Homo sapiens: one gene and its partner. The protein of the gene in region 1 purifies or fractionates together with the protein of each later gene. This does not show direct contact. Each region holds a gene or a part of one and is shown on either strand. Other genes may lie near its edges.

Region 1 (2,387 bases):
TGCCCCATCCTCCTCCTCTTGGTCTCCACTGGCCACACACATCCTCCTGCTACCTCCTTCCAGATACTGAATGTCACTGTCTGGAAGGTCAGTTGAGCAAGGCCCAGTCGTATTTCCCTAACCATGATCACATGGCCCAGGAAAATCTGGGCTAAAAGCCTTGAACACGCAATGCGGTAAAGGCCAAGTCGTCCCCTGGGCACTCTTGACCTTGATCAGGTTCTCTCCCTCCTCTCTCCCCTTCGCCCACTCACTCTACCCATCCACCTCACCCCCTCCCAAACTCCCTCTCCGCCACAGGGCAGGCTGGGCCTCACCTGACTTCAAGAGCCTTTGCTGTCATGTTTTGTCACTGAAAGTGGCCCAGCAGCATCTCTGCCCACCACCAACTCCCCTGTGTCCCATGTCCCCGCTCTCCGCCGCAAAGGCTGAGATTTTCAACACCATTCTCCACCAAAGGAACCAGGACTCCATGCAAGGACAGCTGGCACTCACTGGAGGGAGGAAAAGTCTGGACAGCTCCATAACAGCTCACTGTCGCCACTCACTGTTGCCATAGGGCAATACGCATCCTTGCACTATTTGAGATTCTGCCTACTTTAAGGTATTTAAAGCATGTAAAAGAAACGTATTGGCCGGGTGAGATGGCTCACGCCTGTAATCCCTGCACTTTGGGAGGCCGAGGCAGGTGGATCACTTGAGGTCAGGAGTTTGAGACCAGCCTGGCCAACATGGTGAAACCCCATCTCTACTAAAAATACAAAAAATTAGCCAGGCGTGGTGGCGGGTGCCTGTGATCCCAGCTACTCGGGAGGCTGAGACAGAAGAATCGCTTGAACCCGGGAGGCGGAGGTTGCAGTGAGCCGAGATCATGCCACTGCACTCCAGCCTGGGCGACAGAGCGACACTCTGGCTCAGAAAAAAGAAACTGGTATTGTATTAGTCATTTAGAAGATTTTGATTAAATTTATGGAATTTGGGCCAGGCATGGTGATTGGCACCTGTAATCCGAGTGTTTTGGGAGGTGGAGAAGGGAGGATCTCTTGACCCCAGAAGTTCAAGACCAGCCTGAGACTTTCATCTCTAAAAAAATAAAAATAGGTGGCTGTGGCATTGTGCACCTGTAGTCTCAGCTTCTTGGGAGGCTGGGATGAGAGGATCCCTTGAGCCTAGGAGTTCGAGGCTGCAGTGAGCTATGATTACGCCACTGCACTCCAGCCTGAATGACAGAGTGGGACCCTGTCTCTAGAAAAACTAAAATCTAATAAAAATATATTGACAGAATTTTAAAATTTAGGGATATATATATATATATGTATATATATATATAATTTTTTTTTTTTTGAGATGGAGTCTTGCTCTGTCACCCAGGCTGGAGTGCAGTGGCGCGATCTCAGCTCACTGCAAGCTCCGCCTCCCAGGTTCACGCCATTCTCCTGCCTCAGCCTCCCAAGTAGCTGGGATTACAGGTGCTCGCCACCACGCCCAGCTAATTTTTTGTATTTTTAGTAGAGACGGGGTTTCACCGTGTTAGCCAGGATGGTCTCGATCTCCTGACCTCGTGATCCGCCCACCTTGGCCTCCCAAAGTGCTGGGATTACAAGCGTGAGCCACCACGCCTGGCCTTTTTTTTTTTTTTTTTTAGACGCAGTTTTGCTCTTGTTGCCCAGGCTGGAGTGCAGTGATCATAGGTCCTCACAAATTCAAACTCCTGGGCTCAAGGGATCCTCCCACCTCTGTCTCCCAAGTAGCTGAGACTACAGGCATGCACCACTATGCCCAGCCAATTTTTAATTTTTTTTGCAGGAATGGGGTCTGGCTATGTTGCCCAGGCTGGTCTTGAACTCCTGGCCTCAAGCGATCTTCCCACCTCAGCCTTTCAAAGGGCTGGGATTACAGGTGTGAGTCACTGTACCCGGCATTAGGGAAATAAATTTTTATTTATTAGATGTATATAAGGTATAGAAAAATGTTGATTGTATATGAGGCATAGAAAAATGCTTAAAGGAATGATGATCTTTAATAAATTCATAAGACTGACCCATACATTTTTCTTTTTTTTGAGACGGAGTCTCACTGTGTCGCCCAGGCTGGAGTGCAGTGGCACGATCTTGGCTCACTGCAACCTCCGCCTCCCGGGTTCAAGCGATTCTTCTGCTTCAGCCTCCCAAGTAGCTGGGATTACAGGCACCCACCATCACGCCCAGCTAATTTTTGTATTTTTAGTAGAGACGGGGTTTCACTGTGTTGGCCAGTCTCGAACTCCTGACCTCATGATCCGCCCACCTCGGCCTCCCAAAGTGCTGGGATTACAGCCGTGAGCCACCGCACCGGGCCAAAACTGACCAATACATTTGTACCTGCCTCTCCCACGCAAGATGCTTTCA
Region 2 (3,663 bases), on another chromosome or scaffold:
TCTAACACTTTTTTGGAAAGGTGATATACTCTACTGTAACAAAAATGTAAATCACCCATTTGCAATCAATTTTCCTTAATTTCTAGATACACTGGTGATGATACTCAATGCTACTGACGCAGATGAACCGAACAATTTGAACTCAAAAATAGCCTTCAAGATTATAAGACAAGAACCTTCAGATTCACCAATGTTTATTATCAACAGAAATACTGGAGAAATTCGAACGATGAATAATTTTCTAGACAGAGAGGTAATTCTTTTTCTTTAAGTGGGTTTTTGGTCTCAAAGGAACTGATTCTAAAAGCAAGGATACTGAAGAGACAAAGAGATGAAGAAAATGATGGTTTAAATTTTTACTTGTATAACTTTTTCACATAATTCTTTCATGTAAGAAATATTTTTTAAATGAAAAAGGGAGGATTTTTCAATTACGTTTTGTACTATTTTTCATATAATTAATTGATTAAAATTTACTTCAATTTAAGAAAACTATATTGTGAAAGTACATGAAAATATGCCTAAGGTAGAATCTAAGGTAGAATCAAAAGCTCCATTTCTCTAAAAAGTGTGTTCTATAATAAAATGAATTTAGGAATGACTTGCTATATGTCCACGTTTTGGTGAGTTACAGTGCATGCGAGTATGCTGGAGGCTCCAGGAATATTGATACACTAAGTTCTCTTTCTTTAACCTAGCATATCTAAGCTCCATTGACAACAGAATTCTTGTTTTTCCTATGTAACATCTATTGATAGCTCACCCATTCATTTACTTTGGGAAATGAACCACAGGATAAGAATGATGGATAGGAATTAAATGACAGACTGACCAATCTTTTTATTTACAAATAAGAAAATAACTAGTGATGTTAACAGAGTAAAATCAGCATTATGAGGTTTCTAGCATGCCTTGTGATTTTATGATTTAGTTTTAAAATAAGTGCTTTTTCATTATTTAAAAAAAATTGTCTTTTAATAGAATGTTGCAACCTAAATGTACATTAGGAGCATAAGTGAGGAAGCTTTATTTTCTGATGGTATTCAATTAATTTTGTTTTAATTATTAAAAATGACAATCTTCTTGCTGATGACTTTTAGGTTTAGGATAATTCATATTATTTTAATACTCTTTAATTATCTAAATGTTACAAGTTTCTATGTTACCTAAGTCTCCTTTTATACATGTTTGAAAATCAACATTAGAAGAAATTGAATGTTTACACTTTTCTCTCTCAAACTGTCTTAAACAGCCCAATGAGGTTTCTTTCATGTCAAAAGAGCTTTCGTGGTAAAGCACTGTAAGAAAGGGCTGTCAGAAGGAAAGGGACTCTGCAGCCATTGGGAAGCCACCAGGGCAGATATTCTCAACCTGGGGTCAATGGAGAGACCTCAAGATGTCTCTATAAAACCCCCTAAATTATATCCACCATTTTGAATGAGTGTGCATTTTTGCATGAGTCAAGGAAAGCCTCCATAGATTTTACCAGCTTCTAGAAATATAAGCACCATTGAATAGAGTCAAGAATAGATACATCACCAATAATTCCACTGCCATAACCCACTACCTCTCAAAACACAAAGCTTTGTTATCTGTTTATATGCTTCTTGCACACTCGGGGGCTGATTATTTAGGTTATGGAATATTCATGCCATAAATTTTTGGTAAACTTAATCTCTCTCCTTGAGATCATTCTGGTTTGTTTTACCCTTTATAAACTTTTTCAACCTCTGGACATATTATTATTAATAAGAAATGAAGCCTTTTAAAACGTGTTGCATCTTTTAAATAATGCGTGATAAGTATTATTGGGAATAATCATGTGAAACTTGTGGATTTCCCATATTCTGTGTTAACCCTACCTCTATCATAGATTTATGTAAACGTTGAGCCAACTTTTCAAAGAACTTTACATAAGACAAAGTAAAGGCTGTCTACGTCAAGTGTGATATTGCCTGTAATATGTATTTTTAGCAATACGGCCAGTATGCTCTTGCTGTAAGAGGCTCTGACCGAGATGGCGGGGCAGATGGCATGTCAGCGGAATGTGAGTGCAACATTAAAATCCTCGATGTCAATGATAATATCCCTTACATGGAACAGTCTTCAGTAAGTATTTGTTCTTGGAATTAATAAATCTAAATTCGCTATATTCTAAAACATATACGAACAATTCTGCTTACAGAGGCACATGTTATGTTTATTGACATACAACCCAAATGTAGACACATACTTTTTTCTTGTGTTTATGCAAGAATAAATGGAGTTAAGCAATGAAAAATGAGATGAAAACCACAGATATCTTTTCTAAATAATGAAGTTATCAACATTCCAGTATAAGCCTACTGTAGTTCTCTCTCTTTCACACAGTTTGTGCTAAGAGTTTTCACTTCTTGTTTCAGTATACCATAGAAATTCAAGAAAATACTCTAAATTCAAATTTGCTCGAGATTAGAGTAATTGATTTGGATGAAGAGTTCTCAGCTAACTGGATGGCAGTAATTTTCTTTATCTCTGGAAATGAAGGAAATTGGTTTGAGATAGAAATGAATGAAAGAACAAATGTGGGAATTTTAAAGGTTGTTAAGGTATGGTATAATTATCCTAAATATTTTGTTTTCTTAATCTTTTTTCAAAATGTTAAACTTAAAATAAAATGATGCTAACATTTCACAAACTTGGCTTAGTGAAAGAATAAAAATTACTGTGTTTTAAATATATATATAACATAGAGCTTTTTAATATAGTCTTTCTGCTTATAATCATTTTAGAAAAACAGGTATTGAATTTTAACTGGAGACAGTTTGTCAATACAGTACTCCCAAATAGATCATATAAATTGAAAACACTTAAAAATATATTTTATGCTTACAACAAAGTATAATTAATCCTTAAGGTTAATGTCTTAAGAACTTTTTAAAGCATATTTAATAGAGGCTTTAAAACTGTGTCCATGTCAACATTGTAAGTCAATTATTACACATGTAGAATATTCATCATGTAAATAAAAATGTATTTATTCCTCCCGCGTGTTTTCATAAAATTTAAGTTAAATTACTATAAATGTAGAATTATCACACTCCCATCTCACTGTGGCTGCTGATCAAGGCTTATTAGGAACACAGATATACTGGAAATTTGGTCCAAGTCAACCGGTCCAGAACAACTGGATGCCGTTCTCTTATGTCCTCCCCATATTAATGGTCCACATTTACCTGCAGTAAAATTTCATCTGAGATGTGAGAAAAAAAATTTGCCTCCTAGGGAGCTGATAGTCAAAGTTTCGCCCTGTGCTACACAACTTACACAGTCGATTTTTAAAATCTACAACAGCTGTTTATGGATTGTATATGTTGCATGCAATATATAGTTTCATGGTAAAATATAATCCCTATTTAACTATTTCTTTTTTCAGACTAGGTCTGGAAAACAGACTCTCAAACGACTCTGTCCCCATACGAATGTGTGGCTTTTTGCCTCCTGTGTCTTCTTAAAGTGTCACCATGCCTACAGCTTGTATTTAATTTGAGACAGTACGCAGGTGCTTTAGTTTATCCCTCACAGCATCCCTGCAAATTAGGTTATATTATTTCCATATTGCAGATAAAGACATTGAGGCTCCAAGAGAGCACAGAACCTGCATAAGTTCTCATAGCTAGTAAG

Evidence for each region.
Region 2: the proteins of ZDHHC19 (region 1) and DSG1 purify together in Homo sapiens (affinity purification with mass spectrometry; one large-scale study listed by BioGRID and IntAct). This does not show direct contact.

Annotation. Positions count from the first base shown.
Region 1 is NC_000003.12:196,199,029-196,201,415, forward strand, and holds part of ZDHHC19 (palmitoyltransferase ZDHHC19), read right to left. Parts: intron 495-2,387; exon of another isoform or gene 318-494; intron 1-317. UniProt on the Homo sapiens protein: Palmitoyltransferase that mediates palmitoylation oproteins, such as RRAS and SQSTM1. Catalyzes palmitoylation of RRAS, leading to increased cell viability.
Region 2 is NC_000018.10:31,331,615-31,335,277, forward strand, and holds part of DSG1 (desmoglein-1 preproprotein), read left to right. Parts: intron 1-86; coding exon 87-253; intron 254-1,974; coding exon 1,975-2,109; intron 2,110-2,402; coding exon 2,403-2,588; intron 2,589-3,663. UniProt on the Homo sapiens protein: Component of intercellular desmosome junctions. Involved in the interaction of plaque proteins and intermediate filaments mediating cell-cell adhesion.